Homo sapiens: one gene and its partners. The protein of the gene in region 1 purifies or fractionates together with the protein of each later gene. This does not show direct contact. Each region holds a gene or a part of one and is shown on either strand. Other genes may lie near its edges.

Region 1 (3,927 bases):
TGGAGCTGTCACTCACAGGGGCAGGTCCTTGGCTGCTGACTGTCTTCCTCTCCACTATGGCTGTCTTGAGAACTTAGGGGTCAGCCTGACCCTGCCTTGGCCCCCTTCCTCTCAGCCTCTGTCTTCTCCTGCATGAGGCTGGGTGGCTCCCCTGTGAATCAGGCAGGGGTCCACAGAACACTAGAGACAGGTCCCTTCCTGCAGCTGTCTCCAGTAGGTGGCCACGCAGGAGATGTTCCCAACAAGCTGCCCTTATCTGCAGCTCAGCTTTGGTAATGGGGGCCCATTACCAAATGGGGGTAAAGGTCATGGCCCATCCTGGTGATAGTGAGAACCCAAGGTAGGCCTTGAAGATTCCTATCAGGAGGGAGCAGAAAGTGTGTACCACACCCCTGGGCCCAGGTGGAGCAGGGCTGCTGCTCAAGGCTCCCAGCCATGCTCTGTCCCTTGCTAGGGGTGACCGGTGGGACAGGCCTGGGCAAGGGACAAGAGGGAGAAGGTCGGGGGGAAGAGGGGATGAAGAGCAAAGTGAGCAAAGGAGAGTCTTCCACTATCTGGGGTCTCTGTCAACTGTCAGGCCCTAGAGTGAGCTGTTCTTTCCCTTTGCTTCCTGGAGGAGGGGACTTTTGTCACTGCGTCACTCCACCCTGCCTGCCCCTCCGTTATCAGGCTGTTAATATTAATTAACAACAGTTGCTAGGGATGACAGTGCAGAGGGTTCCTCTGAGCCCATTGCTGGCCCTGGTCCCAAGAGGGGGTAGGGCAGAGCTGGGGTCTGAGGCTGAGCCAGGGAGGGTGCGGAGGTTCCTCGGCCATGCTGAGCTCCTGAGGCCGGGTCCCAGCCAGTGCCTGGTCCCATCTGTGCCTCCAGGCCCTGGCACCAACTCCAGCAGTGTTAGGGGCTAATAGCGTGGTCTCTCCCCTAGCTGACTCAGCCCTCTGGCTTCGGTCGCTTTGGGAAGTGAGTGGAGACCCTAGCACCTGCGTGATGAGGCTCATCTAAAGCGGGGGCCTGTGGACTGGGGCCAAACAGTGGGAGTGGTGGATCATTAACCAGCAGGGCTCAGCCTCATTGGTCCCTAACCCAGTCAGGCCAGGGTTGTCATCGAAGGGGAGGAGGCTGCCTTAATGTGTGTTCAGCCCTTGGCTGTTCCTGAGGCCTGGCCTGGCTCCCCGCTGACCCCTTCCCAGACCTGGGATGGCGGAGGCCGGCCTGAGGGGCTGGCTGCTGTGGGCCCTGCTCCTGCGCTTGGTGAGTCCCAGGGCTTGGCTCCACCTCCCCTGCGGCCTCCAGTTAGGGACCCTGGGGCCAGCCGTGTACCAGGCGAGCGTTACTGGGTGACAGCAAGGGAGCCTCAGGGCCTGCGGGCTGGGCAAGTCTCTGGACACATGAGGGATGCCAGGCCCCACAGAGGAGGGGTGCAGGTGGAGGGTTTCCAGGTTACAGGCTTGAATGCACACAGGGGTGAAAGAGGCTGCTGGACTGGGGTGCTCCAAGTCCCTCCTGTCACTGGCCCTACTGTGGGGTCCAGGCCTGCAGTTGAGGGAGGTCTGAGGCAAGGAGGTGCTGGGATGGGGTTACCTGGTGAGCATCACCTAGGGAGGACTGAGCACTCTGGAGGCTGGGAGAAGATCCAGCGCTGGCACCTCTTAAGTTCCTCGCTTACTTTGTGTCTGGGAGGTGGGTGACAGCTTTTGGCCTCAAGCAGGTGGTGGTAGTGGTGGTGGGAGTCGGGGGGCCTCCTGAACAGACTCTCCATGAGAGACCCTGGCCTCTGGATGTGGTGTACAGTGTGGGGACTCAGGCTGACTTTGACGTGGGCAGAGCCCGGGACCTTGGAGTCAGCTTTGCCTCCTTACCCATCTCTGGCCTCTCCAGCATGACTTTCCTAAGCTGCAGGTCTATCAGGCCACCCCCAGGAAGAAAGGCCAGTGTTGTCACTCCAACACTGGCTGGCTGGCACATGCCTCCAGGAGGCTTCCTACTCCCCACACTCCCCGCTTCCCTGCCCCTGCTCCATGTCCTTCTTACCCTCACACCCTCCCTGGCTGCCTGCTGCCTGGATGGCACCCAGCTGTGTCAGGGCCCACGCGTGATGTTGCTGTGCTCTGCAGGCCCAGAGTGAGCCTTACACAACCATCCACCAGCCTGGCTACTGCGCCTTCTATGACGAATGTGGGAAGAACCCAGAGCTGTCTGGAAGCCTCATGACACTCTCCAACGTGTCCTGCCTGTCCAACACGCCGGCCCGCAAGATCACAGGTGATCACCTGATCCTATTACAGAAGATCTGCCCCCGCCTCTACACCGGCCCCAACACCCAAGCCTGCTGCTCCGCCAAGCAGCTGGTATCACTGGAAGCGAGTCTGTCGATCACCAAGGCCCTCCTCACCCGCTGCCCAGCCTGCTCTGACAATTTTGTGAACCTGCACTGCCACAACACGTGCAGCCCCAATCAGAGCCTCTTCATCAATGTGACCCGCGTGGCCCAGCTAGGGGCTGGACAACTCCCAGCTGTGGTGGCCTATGAGGCCTTCTACCAGCATAGCTTTGCCGAGCAGAGCTATGACTCCTGCAGCCGTGTGCGCGTCCCTGCAGCTGCCACGCTGGCTGTGGGCACCATGTGTGGCGTGTATGGCTCTGCCCTTTGCAATGCCCAGCGCTGGCTCAACTTCCAGGGAGACACAGGCAATGGTCTGGCCCCACTGGACATCACCTTCCACCTCTTGGAGCCTGGCCAGGCCGTGGGGAGTGGGATTCAGCCTCTGAATGAGGGGGTTGCACGTTGCAATGAGTCCCAAGGTGACGACGTGGCGACCTGCTCCTGCCAAGACTGTGCTGCATCCTGTCCTGCCATAGCCCGCCCCCAGGCCCTCGACTCCACCTTCTACCTGGGCCAGATGCCGGGCAGTCTGGTCCTCATCATCATCCTCTGCTCTGTCTTCGCTGTGGTCACCATCCTGCTTGTGGGATTCCGTGTGGCCCCCGCCAGGGACAAAAGCAAGATGGTGGACCCCAAGAAGGGCACCAGCCTCTCTGACAAGCTCAGCTTCTCCACCCACACCCTCCTTGGCCAGTTCTTCCAGGGCTGGGGCACGTGGGTGGCTTCGTGGCCTCTGACCATCTTGGTGCTATCTGTCATCCCGGTGGTGGCCTTGGCAGCGGGCCTGGTCTTTACAGAACTCACTACGGACCCCGTGGAGCTGTGGTCGGCCCCCAACAGCCAAGCCCGGAGTGAGAAAGCTTTCCATGACCAGCATTTCGGCCCCTTCTTCCGAACCAACCAGGTGATCCTGACGGCTCCTAACCGGTCCAGCTACAGGTATGACTCTCTGCTGCTGGGGCCCAAGAACTTCAGCGGAATCCTGGACCTGGACTTGCTGCTGGAGCTGCTAGAGCTGCAGGAGAGGCTGCGGCACCTCCAGGTATGGTCGCCCGAAGCACAGCGCAACATCTCCCTGCAGGACATCTGCTACGCCCCCCTCAATCCGGACAATACCAGTCTCTACGACTGCTGCATCAACAGCCTCCTGCAGTATTTCCAGAACAACCGCACGCTCCTGCTGCTCACAGCCAACCAGACACTGATGGGGCAGACCTCCCAAGTCGACTGGAAGGACCATTTTCTGTACTGTGCCAAGTGAGTCCATGGTGGGGCCCAAGCGAGGAGTGGGCTGGGGCTGGGGCTGGGCTGCCATGGCCTCCTGGGAACCTGGCCGGGCATACAGCTGGTCCTGAAGGACCAGAGGTAGCTATTCCTACGGCTCTGGCCTGGGGCCGCCCAGATGATTATCTCTGCCCCTCGTCCGGCCGCCATTTCCTTTGGTCAGAGTTCCTGCTCATGGCTGCAGGTTTGTGCGTGGCCATCGCTGGCCCTTCAACCCCGAGTCCACTCTGTCTTTCTGCAGATTTCTTGACATGTGGGA
Region 2 (3,500 bases), on another chromosome or scaffold:
CTGTCAACCTTTTATTGGGAGTGGAACACATGAGGTTCAGCTCGTGCCGGGCACTGTACATTCACTGAAGCAGCTCAAGGGGCTCAGCCCCGACACTGACGCCACACTGAGCAGGATGCACGGCCCGGGGCTCACACTGTCCATGGAGGAGGTGGGGTCAGCCCGAGGTGGGCGGATGGTGGCCCGAGACACCGAGAGCTTGGTTCTGGGACTGTGGCTCAGCTGACCCGTGGCACAGCTGCACCTAAGACATGGCCCTGGCTAGGCGGGAACAGCTCACAGTAGCGATACATTCACAGGACACAGTTGGTGTCCAGAAAAGGGGGCTCAGAACACAGTTTCTACACAAGCACTTGGCACCCACACGACAGAGACGTCACTCAAGCAGCACAGCCACAAATAGTTTACAGCAGCTCATGCCCGGCATCCGCCCATGCTGGGAGACTCCCTGAAAGGTGGGCACCTGCCGTCTATGAGGAGGTGTCTCCCTCCATCATTAACCCCAAACCACACAATGTGTGAGGAGAGCAGGCCTCTGGGTGAACTCACACATTCATACCCAAGGAAGAGGCAAACACACTCAAGTCCAGAGTTCCCAGTGGTGCCGCCCAGACCTACTGTCCCGGGGGTGTTATGGCTGTCCCTCGGCTTCCCCAGAGCAGCCAGGACAGCCTGCACCGCCTCCCAGACTCTTGCAGGAAGGGGAGCTCTGCCCTGGGGAGGAAACTGACAGGCTGGGAGACAAGACTCCCATCGCAGGGACATGCACAGCAGCAGCCACAGCCCCGCGGACGGGGCATGGGGATGGGACAGGCAGGGAGCCACACTGCCCCCTCAGTGTGTGCCTGTGGTTCTGTCCTGGTCCTGCCCACTTGGAGCCCAGGCAGACAGGTGGCATTGAGCAGGGCCCAGGTCCAGACAGCCCTCTGGCCAGATGTGACTGGAAGAGGCTGATGCCAGGGCAGCACCAGGCCTTCTGCAAGTCCCAGAGCCAGTGTGCAGAAAGTGCCAGCACGGCCTGTGCTGTGGCTCCTCAGGATGAAGTCACGTCCAGGACAGGAGGGTTTATGCAGACACACAGACACTGCTGACGGGGACAGGGATGGCTCGGCCACTATGAGGCTGGACTCTTCTGTCTGTTCAGGGAGTCGATGTAATGAAAAATGGCCCCCAGAGCCCAGCTGGTCTCAACATTGTCAATTTTCCGAGTGAGCTTGAAAAGACAGAGAGGGAGAGGGGACCATCACACAGACAGGAAAGCCTTGTGCATCAGGAGGCTGTGGCTCCTTGGAAGCCAGGGATGGGCTGGGGGACATGACCCCAGCAACTGGAGAAGTGGTTCTAGGCCCCTCACTCCATAAAGGGGCTGGGGCGTGACCTGAGGGCACCCTTACCTTCAGCACTTTGCTCCTGGGAAAGCCGAACTCCTGGAGTAGCAGGCTGACGTAGGTGAGGTCCATGCATGAGAAGGGGCTGCTCTGCGGCTGTGTCTCCAGGGTCCGACACACTGGGGATGAGACACGTCCCTTCACGCTCCAGGTGACTCCCACCTGGGGGCGGAGGGGCAAGTGCAGACCCCAATTCCACCCACTACAGGCACCCGCTGGCTCCGCACTCCGGATTCACAGACAAGGCCGCAGCTGAGCGCAGAAGGCACCCAGTGCACAGCACAGGCAGGTGGGCGGCAACCCCGGCTGCCACTGGGTCTGGGCTCCAAGGGGATTTGCACGCCTGGTGTTAGGGTCATGGGCCAATGTCTCCCAAGCCACATTTCTACATCTAAGACCCTGGACACCTCTCCCAGGTGTCAAGCTGCATAAAACCTAAGCTTTCTGGGGAAAGAAAACACCAAAGCCAGCTCAGAACAATCCACTCCTGCTCTTGAGGAAGGACAAATCCACCAAGAGCTGTCCTGGGATTCTGCTCAAAGCCTTTTCCTGCTGTAGTTGTGGATACCCAGTGTCCATGGGCACAAATGGGAAAATGACACAAAAGCTTTAAAAAAGCCACTTTTGGGGGAGGGGAAGGGTAGTACTTTTTCTGGAAAGATGTACAAATTTGAGCTCTTTGGACCCACACATTGGGAAGGGCAACCAAGAGCAGGACATGTTCACCAAGGCTTGGCTGCTGGGCCAGGCGTGAAGGAGACAGTGGAGAGGCATAGTGTGTGGCACAGGGTCTGCTGGGCTGGTCACCTGCGACCCCGGGGACAGCCCTCCACCCCACATCCCAGGCTCCATTCTGTAGGGCCTTGGCTTCTTAAGGGTTGTGTGACAATCATGAACTTACTGGGACATCCCAGGGGAAATCACTCTTGGGGTTACCCTAGTAGCAGTAAAATGGCATCTGAGGAAGTGGAATCGAGGGACCCAGTTCCTCACGACCCCATGAGGGTGGGACAAGGACGGTGGTCCTTTCTCAGCTGGGGCCGAGGCCCCTGCCTGTGGCCATTGTTTAGGAGGGGCTACACCCAGGAGAGTCAGGGCCAGCGCCTGCGTCACGAGCATCACGGGGCGCCTGCCCCTGCTGAGATGGCCCCTGCAGCATCACTCACCGTACTTGGCTGCGATCTCGAAGTCCCCCACCACCAGGCTGCCTCCCTTCTCCGCATCTGTGGGAGACACAACACCCAGTCTGCAGGAGCACTGTGAGGTTGGCGATGCCACTGAGACGTGAGGCTGGCACGGGGAACGCCAGCCCAAGAGCCCCAAGGCACTGACTGGCTTCTGAGGCAGGCCCTCCAGCTGTAGGCGGCACTCACGTGCTCTGAGGACGGCTTCTGGGTGATGTGGTGTGGGGTGGGTTTGGGGGCTGAGAGGGTCACCCCACAACCCAACCCTGCAGTGTCCCCCGAGAAAGCTCACCAGGAACCCAGGACCCCAAATTGAGTAAAATTTTAAGTTAAGAAAAATAAAAGTAGAGAAATTGAAATGTTTCCTGAAGCCATAGAACTGAGCTCAGCAACAGTATTCTGGTATCAGTTTCCTAAATGTAAAAAAAAAAAAAAAAAAGTTCTTGAAAAATACACTGAGGGGTGGTTTATTGGTGGCCTTCCACCTTGACCACCCACCTTCCACCCAGGCCCAGTCAGTGGTAGCTTTGTCAGCACAGAGACCCGCCGGAGGCTGCAGGGCCCAGAGAGCCGGCACCGTGTCAGCTTATTTAAAACAGTAGTGTTCTTATCCGTACCACAGGCCATACATTCTGATGATCTCACCATGATAGTGACTCTGCAACCCCCTCCAGAGTTCCCACACAGCCTGACCACCACTAGCCTCAGCAAACTCTGAATACCTTTTTCCGCCCTAATCTGGCTTCCTGGGCTGTGCAGGGTGAGTCAGAGAGACTCCACATTCAGTGAGCTGATCCCTCCCATGGGTACAGGGCAGCCACCTGCAGGTCACAGGAGGCCTCCTGTAGCCAGGGCTGCAGGGTAGGGCAGAGTGGCTGAGTCTGAGACAACGTGGGCCAGTGCAAGGCAGGACCTGCCTTCCAGCAGG
Region 3 (3,500 bases), on another chromosome or scaffold:
AACCATTTACTAAAGTTCATCAAATGTATTAGAAAAATGCAGGATTTAAATTATAAGGCCATAATTTAACATATGGGTAATGAGTGAAAGCTGAAGAAAGAAAAAAATAGCATTCTGTGAAGAGTCAGCAGCAATGACAGAAAAATAGGAAGTAAGCCAGAGCCCACAAACCAAAAAAACAGAATAAAAACCAGTCTGACAATCCCCTGAGAAGCTGGACACCCATGTCCAGAAGACCTATAAAAACAAGCTTTCTATTTCCCAACATGTGTGAGAATATGTGCTAACCTATGCAATGGAAATATAAAGAATAGTTCAAAGACTAGACAAAAGTATACAAAGGACAAAATTCAAAATGGTCAAAAGATATGGATATGTCCAGAAACTAGTCCAGGATGTCAAATGACTTTGCTCTACTGATTCTGAAGTGATGCTTTCTTAAGGGCGATTGTCTGTTTCTAGGGTCTTTCTAAAATAAAAGTCCCCACCCCCTTTTTGGACTTGAGGTATCCAAAATTGTTTTATTATTTTTGTTTGATTATCTTGAAGAGCAATCAAAAGTGTCAATGGACTCTCAGATGAAAAGCCACAAAAAGTTCAAAAACTTACAAAATTTATTAGATTAAAAACTGCTCTACTAAGAACCATCTCTAATGTGTTCTGAAGCCGAAATCTAGGAAGACAGTTACTAAAGAAACAGCCAGTAAAGGAGAAGTAGGTGGTTCCTTAAACTGTTGTTTGAAAAGAAACTCCTGAAACAAAGTCTGGAACATCGTTTTGCACACTATTGCCTCACAAGATCCTTGGCTACCCTTAACTCCACATATTTCCCCTTAAAGGAAGGTTTTGGTTTTTGTTTTATTTCATGTGTGTAAAAATTTGGGGGTAGGAAGAAAGGCTTGAAAGAGAGCATCCCACTCCCAATCCCCTTTCAGAAGAGCTTAATTAAACCCACTCGTTAAAGTTCAAAAGAAAACAACAACAACAACAACAACAATAAAAACCAAATTTCTCAAGAGTTTGAAAGCCCCAGAATGTTGGAGCTGAAAAGGATCTAATCCAATAGCTTCATTTTATAAAGAAGGAAGTGAGTCCAATAGTAAAAATCTATCAACTTTTCTAAAGTACCGTTAGCTAAATAATCTTTTGTTTACTTCAAAAACTACATTTTCACCAGTGAACTTAAAAAATATGTTGTTCCCTATATAAATTACTTTTAAAGGCAAAAACAACATTCACTGAAAGTTTTCTACAAAAAATTATATCAAAGTAATAATGGAAAAAAATCAGTATAACTAAAGTATGGTTGATATTCAAAATCACCATTATTTTTAAGGTGATCCATACCCCAAATGAGCTTCAAAACAGCTGATCAAATGCACCAGGCAGTTAAAGTTACCTTTACTTTATTCAATATCTAACATTTATTGAATGCTTACAATTTACCAGATACTACGTGAAGTGCTTTGCATGTATTATATCATTTATAAGAATAGAAAAGCAAGCTTAAAAACCATAGCTTAATGATAGTCATATACTATAAAAATAAAGTAAATCCTATTAAAACCATGATTCAGAAAATTTAAGGCAAATGAAGTTCCACAAATAGTAACATTCCCAGCTCGTCCCCCTAAACAACAAAGAGCTTTCTCCATTTCCTACAAACAAGACCATCTTCACTACTTCCAGGTTATAAAGTCAGAGATTCTGTCTGAACTTCAACAAATCCAGACAGCATCTCTCTCTCTCTCTCTCTCTCTCTCTCTCACACACACACACACACACACACACTCTCCCTTTCTGTAAATTCAATAGGTTAAATACAAATACGATGGAAAATTTATCAACAATAACTTGTGATCTTGCCAATTACTTCAACAACTCAATTTTTGAATACTTCAAGATTCCTATTTACACAATATAAAAGTCAACATAGTTCCTCTCCTCCATTTTTTTTTTCATAGGATTACAGTATACCTGGCACTAAAATACACACATCTTAGTGAAGTAAAAATGTGACGACGAGGAAAGGGTATCAGAGTAGAAGATAAAGGTACTACTAGCATTATCTTGTTGCTTGATGTTTATAAACATTTTTTAGAAGATAATAATTCTATGGGTAAACTGTTGTAAACTAGTGAAACTATCCAACAATAAGAAGAAAGCCATACTCTCATGCCATTTCATATGGGGAAATTTATATCACAAATCTTTACAGCCTTACATAGATAAGGTATGTGTGTAAACATCTTAGACACTTAATGTCTTTCACCTCTCCTTTCAAGGAATAATAGCAACTTCAATTTTTTACTGTTTTTTCAAATCAGAAGAGGTGAGTTTAATGGATTAAATTCGTAAGTATTTTTCAGTTCTTAAACACCTTATCAAAAGAAATTTTTACATGCTTATTTTGAAGCATGCTTACGATACTGGAAGTTTTGTTAAGAATACTTGGATGAAGTCAGTTCAAAGACTTTTTTTTCCCTGAAGTTGTTAATTTTTGGACAATATAAGAAAAATCTAGTTTGTCACCAGCTGTCCAAAAATTCGACAAGTAGCTCCCTCTCCTGGAGGAAAAAAGTGAGTTCCTCTTCAAGCTGTTAAAACACTTGTACTCTTAAAAATATATTTTTTAATACATGAAGCAATAGACAGCCAAATCTGAGTTTTTCTGTATCAATTAATATCCCAGTATTACTGTAAACAGCTATAAACAGTTTTATAAAAACCTGTATAAATACTAAAAATGTAGTTTCCTAGCTAACAAAGGTAATGAACATCATGGTTTGACTTACTGTACAGCAACTTTTGTACTTGATCACAGAATGTTGAGATACCTTTCATTTTGGTGGTTTTATACAATCATCAAACCTCAAGTATATTGTTCAGACTTGTAAATTCACTAGCTTTTTCCAAAGATCAAGTGATTCTACAAAGAAAGCAGCGGCTCTCTGAAAACTCTTACTTAAAAATATCTTCTTCCTCTACTTGCTTGTTAATCAGGTTTTAAAAAAATTACATGCCTATATGACTGGCTGGTACTAAAGACCCCAAAATTATATTACACAGTATGTACTCAGCTATAATTATAATACATATATTAGTATTAGTACTATTCCTGGGAACTGGGTTGTGTAAATTAAAAATGTAATTTACAAACCTCACTCTAAAACGTGGAGACATGTTTCATCACATACTAAAAACAAATTCTTATCCTATGGCCCATGTGTTTACCCACTCAAAGTAGCTGTGTCATTATGTGTCATATATAAGAAAATAATTGTGCTTTTTCAAAAAAGGCTGTTTCATCACTAAAGATGAGAACAGATAAAGAGTAAGTTTGAGGGAAAAGTTAAACAGAAAACAAGATACACGCACACTTGACTATCTCAACTACAAAGTAAACTGAGAATGCCATGAGAAGTTCAAACTTAAAAAAATATAAAACCTTCCTGCACAAAGCACAAATTTACCTTAGTGTAAATCAGATGCCAAAGTTT
Region 4 (3,500 bases), on another chromosome or scaffold:
AACAAACACTCCCCTCCACCAAAAAAATTACACTGGCTCATCAGTAAATCTAAACAGCCTATACTAATTATTGTTCTTGGTTAAAAAACACAATTACAATATCCCAAGAATTATATATATGTTTATGAAATACCAGGTCTGGAATTCTTCCCTAAGAAAAACTATCTGAATTAAGACATTCACTGAAATAACTACAAACAAAATGTGGCAACAACCTAATGTGAACTGTAAGGAAGTAGAATTGAACAACTTATATTATGGTTATTTAATGGATTTAATATGCAACTACCTAGAATCTTGGTTATGAAAATTACATAGCAACTCTGAAAAAAGCAGAATATAAAACTACACATATTATTACAATTGTATTTTTTTAAATTGGAAGAAATATATTAAGATGCCAAATGTGTTTTATTAGGTTTTTTAGCCTTTTCTTCTAAATTGTATCATTTTCATTAAAAAAAATTTACACGATTACGAACTTACCACTAAACAAATGCAACATCCATTTTCCCTAATAATTTGACAAATTTTTATCTTTTTAAAGTGAAAATGTAAGAGACACAACATAGAAAATATAAATAGAAAATATTCACTTAAAAAACAAGTTTCCCATCATCCAAGTTAGCCCCTTCCTCAAACTTATACCACAATCTCGAATATGTCCTTCCAGAAATGTATATATACAAGTGTATATAATGACTAACATTGATAGTGCTCACTTTATAATTCACTAAATCTGTTTAACAACTCTAGGACAGAGATGGTTTATCATTCCCAAAAAACTGAGACAGAAACGTCTATGTCCTTACACACATACACCCCACTAAATATAAATGGAGAACACCCTACACAACTAAGTTTAACTTATTATATCTTGGTGATTATCCCATATCACAACACATAAATTACCGCAATCTTTTTTACAGCTTCAAATATACCATCTAATGCTTGGACTATTATGTAACAAACTCCGTACTAATGAATATTTGGGTGGCTCCAGTCAATTAGAAGAAAAGCCACAATGATCCTTTTACCTGTCTTTGCACACATGTGCAACGCATGTGTAAGATAAACTCAGACAATGCATCAATTTTTAAATACAGAGCTTGAAGCATTACTGGCACAAATGTAACTTGATAAAGCCTCCTAATATTAGACTGTGTGTATACCAGAAAGGGTAGCATATTAAGAATAGCAGTAATGTAAGACTGTTCTTAATTTTATTGTTTAGGTCATATTCAAACTACCTACTTAAGGCATTAACAGCTTTTCCTAATAGGAATTAAGTACCACTTTATAAGCTGATTTTAATTTTTCAAACAAAATTATTTCTCTATTTAAACATTTCTGGTAAATTCTCATCTTTTTTACAGTAATCTTAAAAATTAAGATGGTAAGTTTGTACAAATAAATGTTTAAATTAAACATTTAAGGAGCACAATTGAATTAATGTACCAACGCAGTCAAAACCTGGTGCTCCTAACAAAAAATTCACTATAGTTCCAAAGTGAAGTTTTTGTCTAAGTTTGCATGGCATCTCAGAATTTCATTAAAATTATTTTAATCTGATTTAAGAGGAGCATAAGAAATTATTTTGCTTACTAAACAGAATCTGGAGGTTTCAGGATATAGACATCAATTATACCCATACAAAAAAACTAGTCTCGGTATCTATCTTTTTTTTTTTTTTTGAGAGGGAGTCTTGGTCTGTCGCCAGGCTGGAGCGCAGTGGCACGATCTCGGCTCACTGCAACCTCTGCCTCCAGGGTTCAAGCGATTCTCCTGCCTCAGCCTCCCGAGTAGCTGGGACTACAGGCACACACCACCAGGCCCAGCTAATTTTTGTATTTTTAGTAGAGACGGGGTTTCACCACATTGGCCAGGATGGTCTCGATCTCTTGACCTCATGCTCTGCCAGCTTTGGCTTCCCAAAGTGCTGGGTTTACAGGCTGTGAGCCACCGTGCTCGGCCTGGTATCTACCATTTTAACTTTCATCTAGTTACATGAAACAAATCACAGAACCTGTGATCCTGACCCAAAAGCAGGATTAAGTGACACAAAAACCCGAGAAAAATGAATAACAAAAGGGAGCAAAAAGTTCCTCTTACTAATTAATAATTAAAGTTTCTAAGTGTAGATCAGGATCACAAAAGAAAGAGGTGGAAAGAAAAACCTATAAATGATGGAAAAAATATTAGAATGTTGATGTTGTCCCTTTTTCTGCTGTCCCAGATTACATTACCCTTTTCTTTTATATGCTTTCAGCTTCTAGGATAAGAGGATGCTTTTATTAAATTTTAGGGTCAAGGTTTTAGAGTTAATTTACAAATACAACTGCATCAAATCTAGTTGGGACCATACAACTTAAGCAACACCAGCCAGTCCTGGAGTTCTCAGAAGAAAGCACTACTTAAAAGAATGAAACAGATATATATTTATAAGGAAATCTATAAAACTCTGTTCTTAGTTTGAAGAGACTGCTATAGAAAGAAGTAACTGTCAAGTACATGAAAACTTTACTAGTTAATCAAGGCAAGGTACATTTAAAATTATAAAATATAACTATATGATCAATAAGGACATTTGTTACAAACTAACAAAATTATGAAAAACAGGTAATACAGACATTTTAAAGAACAATTTAGCATGGTCCATTAAACACAAAAGGCACCTAGCTTGTACTAGCAAAATCAATTCTGGTATCTATGTTAAAGAAAACACTGGCATTAAGTATAAGCAGGTAAAAAATATTTACTGCATCAATATTTGGAAAACTGAAAATTTGGAAACATATTCCATGATCAGGAGATAAGTTGGAATGTTATACGGCTAAAAAAAAAAAAAAAACAGAACTGGATATGCCAAATCAATTAGGTTATGAAAACATACAAGTGGGAAAAAGGTACAGAATAACACTTTTTTTTTTCCTTTTCTTTTTTTTTTTTTTTTTTGGTGAGACAGAGTCTCACTCTGTTGCCCAGGCTGCAGTGCAGTGACGTGATATGGGCTCACTGCAACTTCCACCTCCCAGATTCAAACAATTCTCCTGTCTCAGCCTCCCGAGTAGCTGGGATTACAGGTGTGCACCACCATGCCTGGCTAATTTTTGTATTTTTAACAGAGACAGGGTTTCACTATGTTGGTCAGGCTGGTCTTGAACTCCTGACCTCAAGTGATCTGCCCACTTTGGCCTCCCAAAATGCTGGGATTACAGGCATGAGCCACTGTGCCCAGCCAGAATAACATCTTTGATGTAAAATAAGAACTAAACAAATTAACAAACAAAACTCCACATCCATAATATATATGTTCTACAAATTTGTATAAGTATTTTTAAAGGACTACATACATAGACACATATTAAACTCCTTACACCTTTGGGAAGAGGACAAAATTGCAGCAAGAATTCATATAGTCAAATGCTATTTTAGCTTTTATCTGTAATGTCTCATTACTTGTAAAACTAAAAATTGATAAAGCAATCATCTGGGTAGCA

The links. The genes of interacting proteins can lie anywhere in the genome.
Region 2: the proteins of NPC1L1 (region 1) and ENTPD6 purify together in Homo sapiens (affinity purification with mass spectrometry; one large-scale study listed by BioGRID and IntAct). This does not show direct contact.
Region 3: the proteins of NPC1L1 (region 1) and DIPK2A purify together in Homo sapiens (affinity purification with mass spectrometry; one large-scale study listed by BioGRID and IntAct). This does not show direct contact.
Region 4: the proteins of NPC1L1 (region 1) and TMEM33 purify together in Homo sapiens (affinity purification with mass spectrometry; one large-scale study listed by BioGRID and IntAct). This does not show direct contact.

What each region holds. Positions count from the first base shown.
Region 1 is NC_000007.14:44,538,531-44,542,457, reverse strand, and holds the start of NPC1L1 (NPC1-like intracellular cholesterol transporter 1 isoform 2 precursor), read left to right. Parts: upstream 1-1,127; 5' UTR 1,128-1,198; coding exon 1,199-1,252; intron 1,253-2,115; coding exon 2,116-3,641; intron 3,642-3,927. UniProt on the Homo sapiens protein: Plays a major role in cholesterol homeostasis. Critical for the uptake of cholesterol across the plasma membrane of the intestinal enterocyte. Involved in plant sterol absorption, it transports sitosterol, although at lower rates than cholesterol.
Region 2 is NC_000020.11:25,223,212-25,226,711, reverse strand, and holds part of ENTPD6 (ectonucleoside triphosphate diphosphohydrolase 6), read right to left. Parts: exon of another isoform or gene 2,623-3,500; intron 2,612-2,622; coding exon 2,555-2,611; intron 1,551-2,554; coding exon of another isoform or gene 1,508-1,550; coding exon 1,395-1,507; intron 1,214-1,394; coding exon 1,115-1,213; 3' UTR 1-1,114. UniProt on the Homo sapiens protein: Catalyzes the hydrolysis of nucleoside triphosphates and diphosphates in a calcium- or magnesium-dependent manner.
Region 3 is NC_000003.12:143,974,823-143,978,322, reverse strand, and holds part of DIPK2A (divergent protein kinase domain 2A isoform a precursor), read right to left. Parts: intron 1-3,500. UniProt on the Homo sapiens protein: May play a role in cardiomyocyte proliferation through paracrine signaling and activation of the PPI3K-AKT-CDK7 signaling cascade.
Region 4 is NC_000004.12:41,945,429-41,948,928, reverse strand, and holds part of TMEM33 (transmembrane protein 33), read right to left. Parts: intron 1-3,500. UniProt on the Homo sapiens protein: Acts as a regulator of the tubular endoplasmic reticulum (ER) network by modulating intracellular calcium homeostasis. Mechanistically, stimulates PKD2 calcium-dependent activity. Suppresses the RTN3/4-induced formation of the ER tubules.